2 separate regions of the Homo sapiens genome follow, and region 2 is linked to region 1. Evidence: fine-mapped expression QTL. Tissue or cell type: whole blood. Region 1 holds a variant in brackets; the other region holds the start of a gene. All regions are shown on one strand. Distances are from middle to middle.

Region 1 (8,107 bases):
TGGGCAACAGAGCAAAACCCTGTCTCAAAAATAAATAAATAAAAATAAAATAAAATATTCCCATTATGAAAACCTCTGATCAAAAAAGTCTTGTCTTGAAACTAAGGCACTGAAACATTGCTTGATTTGCTGTTGAGGTTATCTTAAGCTTTTTATATACTTGACCTAAAATATTTTTATTTATTTACTTGGTTCATATATGAACTTGACTTCCTAGAAGCACATGAGTGCTTTCTAAGGCTCAGCGTCAGCAGTAGAGGAGCATATTGGATGTTCATCCAAAATGTACCTTTTCATGAAATCAAAAGGTAGAAAGTCTTATTTTTTGTATTAGTAATAGTACTAATGCTCTTTCAGTTCCACTTTGTAGTTGTACAAGGGGTTTCACATGAACTTATCTCCAAACTTAAGCTTGCATCAGAATCACCTGGAGGGCTTGGTAAAACACAAATTGCTACCCACAGTCCCCAGAGTTTCTGATTCTGTAAGTCTAGGATGTGGCTGGAGAATTTGCATTTCTAACAAGTTCCTAGATGATGCTGATGATGATGGCCTAAGGACCCTACCTTAATTAAAGTATTCCTCTGAGGCAGATTGGGCAAGTCATCGTCCACATTTTATAGCATAACAAACTAGAGAATCAAAATGCTGAAGTGATTTGCACAAGGCTACATGGCTTGATGGTAGAACTGAAACTAGAACAAGCATTTCTTGTCTCTGAATCCAGAGCTCCTGTAGTGCTGCACTCACAATCCTGATACACACATCTTTGTATACATATGTAAACATTTCTTTAGATAAATTTCTAGCGGTGGAATTGCTGGACCTAATGTTGTATATATGTTAAAAATTTGATACATATAGCCAAATTGCTTTCTAAAAAGACTTTACCAATTTGTTCTTTTTTTTTTTTTTTTTCAGACAGAGTCTCACTCTATCGCCCAGGCTGGAGTACAGTGGCACGATCTCAACTCACTGCAACCTCTGCCTCCCAGGTTCAAGCAATTCTGCCTCAGCCTCCTGAGTAGCTGGGATTACAGGTGCCCGCCACCACGCCCAGCTAATTTTTGTATTTTTAGTACAGACGGGGTTTCACCATGTTTGGTCAGGCTGGTCTCGAACCCCTGACCTCGTGATCCACCTGCCTCGGCCTCCCAAAGTGCTGGGAGTACAGACGTGAGGCACCGCACCTGGCCACCAATTTGCTCTTAACCAGCAGTGTGTAGGCATATCTTTCCCTATATCTTCACCAACCCCAATAATAACATTAATAGCAGATAAGCCGGGCGCAGTGGCTCACACCTATAATCCCAGCACTTTGGGAGGCTGAGGTTGGGGGTATCACCTGAGGTCAGGAGTTCGAGACCAGCCTGGACAACATGGTGAAACCCCATCTCTACAAAAATACAAAAATTAGCTGGGCATGATGGTGGGTGCCTGTAATCCCACCTACTCGGGAGGCTGAGGAGGGAGAATCGCTTGAACCCAGGAGGCAGAGGTTGCCGTGAGCCAAGTTCATGCTGTTGCACTCCAGCCCGGGTGACTGAGCAAGACTCCGTCTCAAAAAATTTAAAAAAGGCAGATAATTTTTTACTGAACATTTACTATCTAAGGGACACTGTTTTGAGCAGTGGATATATTATTTCATTCTCTCTTCTTAACAACTTTATGAGTTAGATATTATCCTCAATTACAGAAGAGAGGCACAGAGAGGTTAACTTGTCTGAGATTATCCAGCCAGGATGCATACACAGGCAGTCAGACTCCAGAGTCCCTGCTCTTAAATACCTCTCTATTTACAATTCCCCTTATTGCTATGGAGGTGTAGCATCTTTTTATGTGTAACTGATCTTTTTGGTTTTTTTTTTTTCTGTGATTTGAGTGTGCTTCTGACCATTTTTCTATTGATATTTGGCTTTTTTCTTTTTTATGTTCTCTATATATTCTGAGTATGTGGCAAAAATACTTTCTCCTAGCCTATTGCTTGACTTTTAACTTTGCGTCCCATATAAAAGTTTTACATTTTTATATAGTCAAATCTGTTGTATTTTATCTTATGATTTCAAGATTTTGCATGTTGCTTTTTAAAAACCTCTTGCCATTCATCCTCAGGATTCTCAAAGTGTTATTTTATATTTTTTCTGGCATGTTTACATTTTTAAATATTTAACTCTTTAAAACATCTGGAATTTATTTTTATTTATAGTGTGAGGGAAAAATCTAGCTTAACCTTTTTTTTCCAATTGGATAGTTATTCTAATACCAAATTTACCATTATTTACATTCTTACTTCACTAATTTGAAATGCTACATATATATTAAATTCTTACAGATGCTTGGAGTACACTTCTGTACTCTTAAGTTCTGTTCATGTTTTTCTGTTCATATGCCAGTACTCATTTTACTTATTACACCTTTAGTAGACAAATGTATGCCAGTGCTTTACCTCCTTGTTGGTATTTTTCAGTGTCCTAACTATTTTTATTTTATTTTCCAGATAAATCTTAGAATCAGCTTATCAATTTTCACTTTTAAAAATTGTATTAGGATTTTGATTGAAATTTTACTGAATTAATTTTGGAGAAAATTAACAGTTTTACAAAATGAGCCTGCCCAATGAAGAATGTGATGTATGGATCTATTATTCACTGTTTTTTAAATATTCTTCATTTAAATTGTACAGTTTTCCTTATATGGTAATCACACATTTCTTATTAGGTATATTCATGGGCATTTTATAAGGTTTTTGTTGCTCTTGTGAATAAGCTCCACTTTCCCATGACGTTTTCTAATTAGTTACAGCAGGTGGGTGATAAAACTATCACTTTTGATATTTGCTTTTATATCAGACCACCTTGCTAAAACTCTTACTTGGTTCTAATATCTAGTATATGTTTTTACTTGATTTTATTGACTTTTCTTCATGGATGATTATATTATCTGTAAATGAATTTTATCTCTCTGAGTGCAGTTATGCACCACATAACAACATTTTGGTCAATAACAGACCACAGATACAGAAGTGGTCCCATAAGATTATAATGGGGATGAAAAATCACCTAGTGACTATAGCTGTCATAATGTCGTAGCATAATGTATTACTCATGTGTTTGTGGTGATGCTGGTGCAAACAAACCTGCATTGTTGTATAAAAATATAGTGCATACAGT[T/G]ATGTACAGTACATAATGCTTGATAATAAGCGACTGCGTTGCTGGTTTATGTATTTACTGTATTGAACATTTTATCAGTATTGTAGAGTGGACTCTCTTTCTTTGTTTTTTTTTCTTTTTTTTTGAGACAGGAGTTACGCTCTTGTTGCCCAGGCTGCATTGCAATTGCACAATCTCAGCTCACTGCAACCTCCACCTCCTGGGTTCAAATGATTCTCTTGCCTCAGCCTCCCAAGTAGCTGGGATTAGAGGCATGCACCACCACACCTGGCTACTTTTGTATTTTTAGTAGAGATGGGGTTTCACTATGTTGATCAGGCTGGTCTCGAACTCTGGACCTCAGGTGATCCACCCGCCTCGGCCTCCCAGAGTGCTGGGATTACAGGCATGAGCCACTGCGCCTGGCCTACAGTGTACTCTCTACTTTGAAGAAAATATTAACTGTAAAGCTGCCTCAGGCAGGTCCTTCAGGAAGTATTCTAAAAGAAGGCATTGTTATCATAGGAGATGACAGCTCCATATATGTTATTGCCCTTGAAGACCTTCCAGTGTGGCAAGATATGGAGATGGAAAACAATGATCTTGATGATCCTGACTCTTTAGGCCTAAGCTAGCGTGTGTGTTTGTGTCTTTAACAAAAAAGTTTCAAGAGTAAAAAAAAATACTTTTTTTTTTTTTTTTGTATTTTTGGTAGAGATGGGGTTTCACCGTGTTGACCAGGATGGTCTCAATCTCTTGACCTGGTGATCTGCCCGCCTCAGCTTCCCAAAGTGCTGAGATTACAGGCATGAGCCACCACACCCGGCCAAAAAAATACATTTTAAAAATAGAAAAGCTTATGGAATAAAGGTATAGCCATGCACAGTAGCTTGTGCCTGTAATCCCAGCTACTCTGGGGGCTGAGGCAGGAGGATCACTTGAACCCAGGAGTTTGAGGCTGCAGTGAGCCATGATTGTGCCACTGCAGCCTGGGCAACAGAGGAGATGCTGTCTCTTAGAAGAAGAAGGAGGAGGAGCATATAAAGAAAATATTTTTGTATATTTGTACAATTTTTCTGTTTTTTATTTTTATTTATTTAAAAAAAAATTTTTTTTTTTTTTTGAGACAGAGTCTCACTCAGTTGCCCATGCTGGAGTGCAGTAGCATGATCTCGGCTCGCTGCCACCTCCACCTCCTGTGTTCAAGTGATTCTCCTGCCTCAGCCTTCCAAGTAGCTGGGATTACAGGTGCGTGCCACCACGCCTGGCTAATTTGTATATTTTGTGGTAGAGATGGGGTTTCGCCATGTTGGCCAGGCTGATCTCGAACTCCTGACCTCAAGTGATCCACCCACCTTGGCCTCCCAAAGTGCTGGGATTACAGGCATGAGCCACCCCTCCCGGCCAGTTTTTCTGTGTTTTAAGCTAAGTATTATTACAAAAGAGCCAAAAAGTTAAAATAATTATAAAGTTTATAAAGTTAAAAAGTTACTGTAAGATAAAGTTATTGTTGAAAAAAGAGAACATTTGGCTGGGTGCAATGGCTCAACACCTGTAATCCCAGCACTTCGGGAGGCCAAGGTGAGCAGATCACTTGAGGTCTAGCCTCAAGTTTGAGACAAGCCTGGCCAACATGGTGAAACCTCGCCTCTACTAAAAATTCAAAAATTAATCGGGCGTGGTGGCGGGCACCTGTAATCTCAGCTACTCAGGAGACTGAGGCAGGAGAATCTCTTGAGCCCAGGAGGCAGAGATTGCAGTGAGCCGAGATCATGCCACTGTACTCCAGCCTGGCAACAGAGTAAGACTCCATCTCAAAAAACAAACAAGAAAAAATAAGTTTTTAAAATAAATTTAGTGTAGCCTAAGTGTATGGTGTTTATAAAGTCCACAGTAGTTACAGTCATGTCCTAGGTCTTCACATTCACTCGCCACTCCCTCACTGACTCACCCAGAGCAACTTCCAGTCCTGCAAGCTCCATTGATTGTAAGTGCCCCTTACAGGTGTACCACTTTTTATCTTCTATACCACATTTTTACTGTGCCTTTTCTATGCGTAGATATGTTTAGAGATACAAATACTTAACATTATGTTACAGTTGGCCTACAGTATTCAGTATAGTAACATGCTGTACAGGTTTTCCACCTATATGGTTATCCCATATAGCCAGCCAAGGTGTGTAGTAGGCTGTACCATCTAGGTTTGTGTAAGTATACTCTATGATGTTCACGCAATGATAAACTTGCCTAATGATGAATTTCTCAGAATGTATTCCTGTCATTAAGTGATGCATGACTGTATTTATAACTCTCATTGCTTTGGTTAGGCCTTCTAATGTTAAGTAGTGCGATACTAGTGGGCTTGTGTGAAAAGAAGGCTTCTTATGTGTTGTAAATGAGTATACTGTGTGGTGTAGGTTCTGGCACAGATCATTTATCAAGCTGAGGCCATTTCTTACTATTGCTAATTTACAAAGATTTTTCAGTTAGGTATAGTTGAATTTTACTGACTGCTTTTTTATATCTACGGAATAATATTTTCCCCTTTACTGCTAATGTAATGACACATTGAATTATTGAAGTTGAATCATCCTTACATAACTGAACTACACCCTTTTTGCGTTATTCATTTAACATATTGCTAGGCTTGGTTTACAAATATTTAAGGTTTTGCATTTAGGGATCTAAATATTTATTGAATCTTTGCTGTCTTCGTCCAGCTTATGTCTGATTTACAGAATGATTTGGGTAGTTTTTCATTTTTTTCTGTGCTCTGAAACAGCTCTGTAGTAGGATTATCTGTATTTTAAAGCTTAGAACCAAGAAGTTTTATTCCAAGTATTTTTTATTTTATGAATTTTTTTTACCACTCACATTTTTAAATTTCCATGTTTGCATTGAATAAATATAATTATCATCTGTGATGCTCTTAAAATCTAGATCTTGTCTTCTACAGAAATGGGCAAGCATAACTGAATAATTGATAATTGAGTAATTGAAACCAGGCATTCATTTATGGTTTAAGGGCTTTTTTTTTCTCTTTTTGGTGGATAAAGAGACTAATATTAATATTTAAGAGAGGTACGAGATGCCTCTTTGATTTTAAATTAATACTGACTTTTTGTGGTTATTTTTGATCCTTAGAGAATATAGCCTTAAAATTTAGTATTTTTAAGAAAGTGATCAAATTGGTTTACATCTAGTGAATCTTCTGGGTGTTATGGCCTTCAAATGTGAAAGAACAGTTAATGATCCCCTGTCAAAGTATAAAGATGCATTTGTGTTTTTATTATTGGTGGTAACTTTCTGTGGCTTTATCCACCCTTGTGATTGTTTAAAATCAGCAGAGCAGTAATTAACCTATAACTGAGGGGTATAAAAAAAGAGCTCTCAACTTTGGCTTTCTTGGAATCATGCTTAGCCAAGTTAACTGAGAAGTAAATCTGCACAATGAAGATGAACAGGAATGGTAAGGTAGTGATGTGCTCAAGTCAAGATTTCTTTTTGATAAGTCTAGAATGGATTTCTTTTTTTTTCTAAACTACTACTATTTGCCTTTGTGCTCACCTATATTTACTCCTGAAATTGGAAAGTGTCTCTAGACTTAACACTGATAAACACTGCCCAAAGCCAAATAACTAAAGATGTTGTCAGTCTCTGTTTCCAAGAGCTGTTGGGTCTCGCAATAATAGAGAGGCTGAAACTGCTGTAGATCATCTTGCTCCCATCTGCTCTTGGGTCCTTCCAGTAAATGGGAGTCCTCTTAATCTACCATATGTTAAACTGCCTTGGGGCTAAAGAACAGTGATGTAGATGTTATCACACAATTTCTGAATCTTTCACATACTTTACAATTTCTAAGGTGGAAAGAAAAAATCAGTATCCTATTTTTAGTTAGGGTTAGAGTTAGCTTTGCATCGTTGAATGATACAGGATGGTTGCTGTATAACTAACATAATTAAGTTTACCTTAAAGAAATATGCTAAGAACATCAAGGCCTTTTTAGGTGTTCCTGTAATTTGGAAAGGGTGTAGCCAGTAATTTATAAATAGATTGTTCTTGTTGCACACCAAAGGGCAAATCTGGGCTCACCCTTTTTGCATGTTGTGTGAATTTAACAACTTGTGTTTTCTGCATTAATCTATTTTTAGAGGGGTATAACCCCTCTTTTAGTAATTCGAGGGATTTGGCTTAGTTACACTTGGTAAAGCTACAAAATCCAGAGGTTTGAATCACTCCTAAATAAAGAGAAGCCTCAGTATTAGCCAATTATAAGCTTTCTTTAAAAGTTGTAACAATTTAGGTTTCCAGGGTAGAAGAAGTAGAATTATTTGATTTTTTTTGGTAATGAACTAAACTATTTAAATTGTTGTATATGTTTGTTTGAGGATGGTACCTGCCTCATTTCAGGACATTTTGGATATCACGTGAGATAATTATTCACAAGAAATAACAATAAAAATTCCAGTTATGGTTGTTACTTTTATCATCTGTACTTAATATTTATCCATCAAAATTTACATGGATATTCGTGATCCATAACAGGATATTTCAAGTCCTGAGCGTTCTAATTGTGGACTTTATATTGATTGTCTTCTGTAGTGACTGCGGAAAAGTTTATGCTACATATGGCTTTATCTGTTTGCAACTTAAGCAACACTTTAAGCATACTTCATCACCCCAGCAAAAAGCTGGTCAGGTTTATGAGCTTGGCATCTTATTGGTGCATTTTTGTCTCTGCTGTTCTCTGAATTTTGTGTCATAAAAACCAGTTAGTCTCCATGAGGGCTAAATTGAATGAGAGTTTTTTTCCTCTGATTTTAAATAAATATCACTTACAACAGAGCTCTTGGGAGATGCCATTTCTTCAGGACTCTCCTCTGACCCACGTCCCTTTTAAGTTACTCTTTCTCTTAATGTTAATATACACAGTTCTCATGAACATCAAAAGTTTTAAT
Region 2 (8,096 bases), 180 kb before region 1:
CAAGTGAAGGCAACACATGACTCAATAATACTGCAGTTGCTCTCAGCTCTTATATATCTGTGCTATATTAATTTATACTTATAATTATGCCCAAATTGTTTCAAATATAAGGGATTGGATTATCAAGGATAGGACCATGATTTCTTGTGTCTTTTTTTTTGACTCACTTTTTTTTTGCTCTGTCTTAAGCTTAGCTATATAAGTCATAATCTTTTAAGTGAAATACTTCATTTGGTATGCAATGAATGAGTTATAGATATATTGCAAGATAGGGATCTATTCAGCCTGAGGAGTTACTTAAAATAACTGGAGTGGTTGATAAATCTAGGTAATTCACTCCTGGCAAGAAGCAGTGTGATCTAGAGATTCTCAGCAGCCCCCCAAAATCAGGGTGTGAATACCCACCCTAGTATGCCCATGGTCCCACTGGTGGACAGCACAATGAAGTTCTTGCCAAGCAAAGCCAAGGAGTATTCTACCACCAGGTCATCACTTTCACAAGACAATTGTAGTACACACTGCTGCCTATTGTAAACACTGAGCTTTGGAGGATGTTCCAGGTACCAAAAGAGCAGGACTTACAGCCTCAGATAAGGCCAGGAAATGCAGGGAGGCCTGCTAGGTACTCCTGATGAACTCAGCTTATGATCTCTCTTTTTATATATATAGCATTCTTCCTTTTGTTTATATCTGATGCGCCCTTTTAATTATGTTCAAGTTAGATGAAGAATTATTGATCTAATAACACAATCTAACTCTGCAAATTAGACCTTTATCAATATTTTGCAATAGATACTTGACACAAAAAGTGTTTGGGTAGATGGGGAAATTCCCATTGGCAAATGTAACGAGGAAATACCCTGTGATAATGTGGATATATTATCAATTATAATTTATACTTTTAAATTTTGAATTGTTGTGAAAATTGTTTAAAAGTTTTTTTATCACCTACTTGTATGAACTAAATTCTCATCAATAATGACTACCAAGAATTTGAAGACATCACTGTTAAACTGTCTCATTCAAGAACTGCAAGCCGTCATTTCAATCATAAAATCCTGTATAAAAAATGTTATGTTTACAGAAGCAATCTCAGGTTTTTCATTAAATTTTTAGACATCTTTGTTTGGAAATGTATACAAATTCAATATTTAGTGTCATCCTTAATATGTTTATTTTTGTCATTAAAAGTAAGTAATATAAAGAAACAATTTTTTTCACCAAGCCCCATGTAATTAGCTGCCTCCAAATCCCCTTTAATTTATCCCAGTGTGCTGTACAAATACTATTTCTATGGATGTCATGATGTGGAAAAAAAAGGTAGAGAACCACCCCTTTAACATTTAGATCAGGATTCTTCACCTTGGTTCCTTGATAGGTTTTAGTAGGTATGAGAAATATGCAAGTACATTTTTCTGGAGAGAAGGTCAATAGTTTTCATCAGGTTCTCAAAGCTTGAGAACCAGCTAACCTCAGAGATTTCAAGCTCCCCTATAATTTCACCCCGGAAGAAGTATTGATACAAGTTAAGGGTTAAATGGACTCCAGTGGTACAACCAGGCCTCCAGCATCGCAGGTGGGAAGAGTGAAAGTGCTCTAAGTAGAACTAGGAGGACTTTTGTCTCTTTGGCTCCCTCTTTTGGGAATCCTGCTCTTGGCCTCTCTCTCCTCAAATTCAGCTAGAATAGTAAGAGGATCCTAGGCTCTTCACTCTATTAGAAGATATCTCCTCTCTCAGTTCACCAGAAGACCTAGGAGGAACCAGGGTGGAGCCTAGGGAAATTAGGTATAAATGGGGCACAAAGCATAGATTTCATCAAATGCTTAGTGTGGTCCAGCTCCGTTCGCAAAGCGACTGTACTGGGATCTGCAGACAAAGCCTGAAAGCCAATATCATAAAGAGCACATTTGCCCAGACCTTCTCTCCTTTGTTTCTATAGAACTTTGTACGTATATAGACTTCTTCTATATTTCTACATACCTCCTTTCGCGCCTAGCCGAGGTGACAGAAGCCATGGTACCACTAAGCTACGCTCTAATTATTTGTTGATGTGTTTTCCCCTACTAATTGGCTTTGAGCCCCTAAGAGGTAGATAAACATTTGTCTTGTTCTTAAAGCAGTGTCTAGTATATGATACACATTCAATAAATATTTTCTCAATTATTAGTAAATAAATTAATGAACATGCACCAATAATTTCCAAATCTTAGTTTCCTTAAAAGGTATATACCAGGAAGAGATATTTCCCCTGAAAATTAATAAATTAACTTCCTGATACAAACAATGTGAATTTTGTCATCCCATAATTCAATTTTGATCAGGATTTTATCACCTTAGATATGTGGAACAAAAATGTTCCACACTTACCTACAGATGAAACATGTCTTGACCACTAATCTACTTCTACTATTAAGAAAAAGAATGATGGCCGGGTGCGGGGGCTCACACCTGTAATCCCAGCACTTTGTGAGGCCAAGGCAGGTGGATCATCTGGGGTCAGGAGTTCGAGACCAGCCTGACCAACATGGTGAAACCCCCATATCTACTAAAAAGACATAAAATTAGCCGGGCGTGGTGGCACATGCCTGTAATCCCAGCTACTCAGGAGGCTGAGACAGGAGAATAGCTTGAACCCGGGAGGTGGAGGTTGCAGTGAGCTGAGATGGTGCCATTGCACTCCAGCCTGGGCAACAAGAGCAAAAATCCGTGTCAAAAAAAAAAAAAAAAAAAAAAAGCCGGGCACAGTGGCTCACATCTGTAATCCTAGCACTTTGGGAGGCCGAGGTGGGCAGATCACTTGAGGACAGGAGTTCGAGACCAGCCTGGCCAATACGGTGAAACCCCGTCCCTACTAAAAATATAAAAACTAGCCGGGTGTGGTGGCGGGCCCCTGTAATCCCAGCTACTCGGGAGGCTGAGGCAGGAGAATTGCTTGAACCCGGGAGGCGGAGGTTGCAGTGAGCCGAGATTGCACCACTGCACTCCAGCCTGGGTGGCAAAGGGAGACTCCGTCTCAAAAAAAAAAAAAAAAAAAGTTATCTTAATTGCATAGAGGGCTTTATTTACAGTTTATTCTGAACTTTACCATACATTATCTCAAGAATCTTGTCAGTTAGGGTTCCATTGTAGAGATAAAGGAATTAAAGCTCAAAAAGTTCAAGCCATTTGCATAAGGTTTTAGAGCTGGAACTAGAAACCAGGTCTTCTGATTCCTATGGTAGTGCTCTTTCTCACTGCAAGGTTAATGGACTTAAGCCTTTCATCTTCCAAAAGAATTTCTGAAGAGTATGTTACCATGAAAAAGTAGAACATCATTGTTGCCCTCCCTGAGTCAGAGAATCAACATACAAGTACTAAGACCTACAGATTTGAATATTACTTTTTCTAGAATGATACTTTGGTTCATAAAGCACATATATTTCATTTATTTGAGTTCATTCAGCTTCTAGCTATGTGTATTTTTTGGCTATGTATCTAGTTTCCTCTTTGGTCTCCCATGCATTGGTTCAAAGTTCTTACTTCTGAAACTTGCCTTCTCTTTTCCTGTTTACTACGGAGCTCTGGGGAAAACACAGTCAGATTGTTTAATCTGTGAACCATACATCTTTGTTTAATTTTGTCTCACAGGCACTCCTGATCACCACCAGGGGGCAAAAGCCTACCAGCTGGCTTCTCTGCACTACACTCTACATAGGACTGTACAGTACAGGGACCCTCAGTGTCTGATTCTTGATGGAACCTCCCTGCTAATTATTTCAACCACAGGGCCCCAGGGAGAGAACAAAGGCTCAGCACAGAGGACTCTTGTGGCGTTTAACCGTACAGCAGCCAGAAAGAGCTCATGACAGCCCTGTCAGTTTAAAAGAAGCAATGAGATCCAAGAGTGTTTGAGTGACAAACAGGAGGGGGTGGGTTTTAATAACTGCAAACTCCCAAGTGTGTGTGTTTTCTACAGCTTTGATATGTACGGTGGTATTTACCAGCTCATCCACTCAAGCTGAGAAATAGCCTTGTCAACTCTCTTTCTTTGTGTAAATAATCAGTGATATTTGCATTGTGCAATTTTTTTCCTTTTTAATCTTGATTTTCCATTACATTCTTTGCTTATGTTCTGCAGACAATTTACCCCTGAGAAAACCATTCCCTTAAAATATCTTTTAATCTACATTTTTACATAGGTCTATGAAAGAATGACATTTAGAGACGAAGGAGAAGAAAGCTTAACGAGCAAATCCTGTTTAATTAAAAGACTGTCTTCACAGCAGGAGGCAAGTGAGAGGTCAATAGCAGGCTGGACCCTCACAACCGGCTTCCTCGGACTCCCAGGCGCGCTCAGCTTCTCTTCTCCTCAGGAATAATGAATAAGTCTTTAGACAGGCAATAGAGGAAGCATGAGGGTACCACAAACCTTTCCAGGGTATCAAACGGAAAATGGTTTTCTTTCCAGAAGTCTCATCATAAAACATAGACGGAAGGGGGGGAAAAGTTAAGAAAAAGCCCCCGAGAGCCGGGGTGAAGGGAGTAAACTGGTCTAGCCCAGTTCTGTCTGCGCCCAGTGAGAGGGTTTGAAACTCCGCGGAGCCCTTTCCCAATAGAAAACGTGTTTGCTTCAGGATTTTCATCTCAGCTGCTTTTTTTTAAGGTTGGTTAAGCTGTGCGCCGCCCCACCTCATAAAATGGTTGTCTCTCAGGAGTGAAGACTCCAGCGGCCCCCCGCCCTGGGACCCCTCACCGGGCTGGCTCCCTTCGGCCCCTTCCCCCACCCCACTCCACAGCACCCAGTGCTGGCAAACCGCGCGATTCCAGCACGAAGGAGGAAACCCAGGAGGGTGCGGCGGCCCGAGGCGCACGCACTCGGCCAGCTTCCGGCAACTCAAGGGTTACGACCAGGCGGCGGCGCGCGCCGAGGGGAGAGGCGGTAGCTGACAGGTGGCGCCTGCGCACTGGGAGCGCTCATTGTGCCCCGCAGCTGCGGAACCGCCCGCCCGCCGCCCGTTCGGAGCGTCAGTCGGCGACAGTCTGGTGGTGGGTGCGGAGTCTGCGGCCGTTCCCGCGGCCTCCTCCTCCTCCCCGTTCCCTTCACCCCCACCCCGCACCCCTTTCCCCATCCCGGCTCCGTCACCCTCCCGTCCCCCACACTCAGGACAAGAATGCCCTGCCCGGAACAACCCAGCAGCGCCTAGATGGCTTTGGTCACGGTCCAGCGGTCACCTACCCCCAGCACCACCTCCAGCCCCTGCGCCTCGGTGAGTCCTTCCTGGCGGCCGCTCCGCTTGCTTCTGTCACTGCGGCTCCGCTTTGCCTCAGCGGGTCCCGCCGAACGCCACTGCGCACGCGCCGCGCCGCTTCCCAGGCCTTGGCACTCGGCTGCCGCGAACCCCCCCACACCCCCATGTTAAAGACTAGCAGCAGGAACTACAAGACGTTGATTTTTGCCCCCATCACCCTGAGCACCTAGCTCCTCACAATCCTCGCCCTGAAATCCCCTGTGGCATGCCTCCCTATGGCTTGAGCACTTCCTTTTGGTAATGAGTCATTCTTGCTTTTCACCCTCCCCCTTCTTTTACCCTCTGTTGCTCTGCTGCAGGGAGGGGACCGTGAGCCTCCTGCGTTGCCCCTTACCCACACCCACATCTCTTACCCACACCATTTCATAGACCTGTTCAGTATTTGCACACTGCACACCCTTCTTCGTACTCGCCAGGGTGTGTGCCTTCCCCTAGTCACTTGCTGGCTTTCTTTTGCTCTGTACTGTTCAGGCTTTGAACTGCCCAACCGTAGTTATTCCTTGGTTTCTCCCGCCTGCCCCCCACCCCAGAGGGTAGCAATGATCTCTGTTTCCTGGACCTCTTACCTTTCCTTTATGAGGTCCCGAAGCATCTGGTGCTGCTTAGTGATCAGTGTCAAATTATTTCCGTCTTACAGATATTTATGCCTTACACTCATTGCTCGTGATCATTCTTGTTCTAAGGTCGTGTTTGTATGGCTCGTTACCTCAGATGCCTATGCCAATAAAGCATGCTCTCAGAAGGAAAATACCCAGTAACCAGCCTTTCCCCGCTGGGCCCGTCTTTGCCTTCTCTCCTCGCCCCACCCCCATTCGTTTACACTCCATTCTCTTAGGCTCCATTTTTGAAAATATTTATTTTTAAAAACAATATATTGCACCAGTGGGGCAAATGGGCTTTAAAAAACCAACATCCAGATGTTTTAGAGAGAAATAAACTGAGTGAAAATGCGAGCAACTGGGAAAACCACCTTGAACTTCCTACAGAACTGTAATTTTAAAAACGGTGTTGGTGGATTTGGTAGTATCAGGTTGCAAAAAAAGGTATTTAATAAACACTGTACCACTTTCCACTGTAAAAAAATCATCAGGTTACCCTTAATATTTGTATGTTAACTGAGGTGTGAGCTTTGATATCCTGAAATTTGCTGGCTTGTCATTTCAGTATAATTTCCTGAATTTCAAAGTTTTGTTGTGTATGGTTGTGGTTTCTTCTTTTCTGAGCTTTAATTGCATTTTGTGTGATGAAATTGACAACTATATCTTAATAAGTGATTTTATTTCAAAGGTTATATATCTTGTGTTGTTTCAGAGAGCAGAACTGGGATTCTTGGTTCAGGGAGGCAGATTTCCAGTGATTGTAAGGAAGAATTTGTAACAGTGGAGTGCACTGCCTTGCAAAATAGTGAGTGCACATTGCTGGAAATATTCAAGCAAAGGCTGGAGAACATTTTGCCTGGGAGGTGGTATAAAGAATTCCTGCAGTGGGGGACTTCTAAGACTATTTCTAATCTAAGATTTTGTGATTTGAGAATACTTGTACTTCAAAGCTGGTAAAACATTTTAGGGTCATCTGAAGACAAGTATCATAGGAATAAATCTTTAATATAATTTATTCTTATGTGTAGTACTTTATGCTAGTTTTTGGAAAGTCATTAACATACCATCAAACCTTCTTAATTCACTCCACTAGTAAACTCTTTGGTTTGTGGTTACTAGGCCTGATTTTGAAGAAATCGATTGAAAGTTAGTAGAGTCATGCAAATAAACTAGAAATCAGTACTATAGTAACATTTATTTTCCTTGGGCACTGTTGAAAATAGCTTATGCTATGATAATATATGTATATCAAGTTGTCATCATACTAATTTACTTGAAGTGAATGATTAGTATACAGTAAGACCGTGTACACTTGATATGACTTCATTAGCCAAAACTTGAGTTACTTTAGAATCTTGAGGTATGTTAATAGTCACTTTTGACATAGGTAATTAAATTGATCATGTAATAAGCTCAGTTGTTGAGCAAAATCACTAATATTTCTATATCTACTAGCCTGGTTATTTCAGTTGTTTATACTTGGCCCTGAATGCAAAGGAATCCTAAGGCTGGTGTAACAATCAGCATCATTAGTATAACTGATAAGCCAGCTTCCTTTCTCTTTAAATTGTCTTCCTATTGGACTTCATCCAGAATTGTGTTCAGCTGAGTTGTTTCGAGGTCCTTGTACTCTAGCATTTGGCTGCTGTCTGACCTCCATATATTTTGCTGTTCTATCTCTTGCTGTATGAATAGGTTGGGTTGTTTGTTTTAAAATAGAGAGCAAAAAGAACCTAGAGGACCATGAAAGAAGAGATTTAATTTTGTGAGACTGGAAATTTACATTTTTTTATTAATCACTTTAAGTACGCTGTTAATACTTTTACACTATAGGATGCAGGGCATTTTAATACTGCCAGCTCTTTAGTGTTGTTTCATTAGGCATTAAACAATATGCTAGGTGTGAGTGACCATTGTAGATACTAAGATGTATAGGAAATTGACCTGTTCATCAGGATCTTGCAATCTGGGGGGCTGGGGCATTGGAGGAAGAACAAACATAAGGTAAGAGGGAAAAGAAGAAGAAGGGGAATGATACTGTAGGTACCTGAAGAGTTTGTGATGGTCATAAGTATTGTCTGAATTCAGATTAAGATAAGTTCACTAATGGCAATGTTAATAATAAGAGTATAACAATATCTAACATTTCTTGGGTCCTCATCTATGCCAGGCATCATGTTAAGCGCTTTACATGAATTAATTCATTTA

What was found. PIP is the estimated chance that this variant, and not a neighbour inherited with it, causes the effect.
Region 2: SSH2 starts here. The variant in region 1 is fine-mapped to the expression of SSH2 in whole blood (INTERVAL, PIP above 0.99).

Annotation. Positions count from the first base shown.
Region 1 is chr17:29,746,604-29,754,710 of GRCh38, reverse strand. All of the region lies in intron 3 of SSH2 (slingshot protein phosphatase 2), which reads left to right. Among named protein-coding and RNA genes, the nearest start is that of SSH2-AS1, 110 kb to the right of the region's middle. The variant T/G (reference allele first, on the strand shown) is at 3,171.
Region 2 is chr17:29,927,089-29,935,184 of GRCh38, reverse strand. It overlaps SSH2 (slingshot protein phosphatase 2), which reads left to right and starts at 4,957. Exons shown (of 16, transcript NM_001282129.2): 1 at 4,957-5,247. The coding sequence starts at 5,185. It also overlaps a transcript of EFCAB5 not described here. RefSeq lists silencers at 1,520-1,814, 3,775-3,944, 4,678-4,767, 4,918-5,197, 5,708-5,757.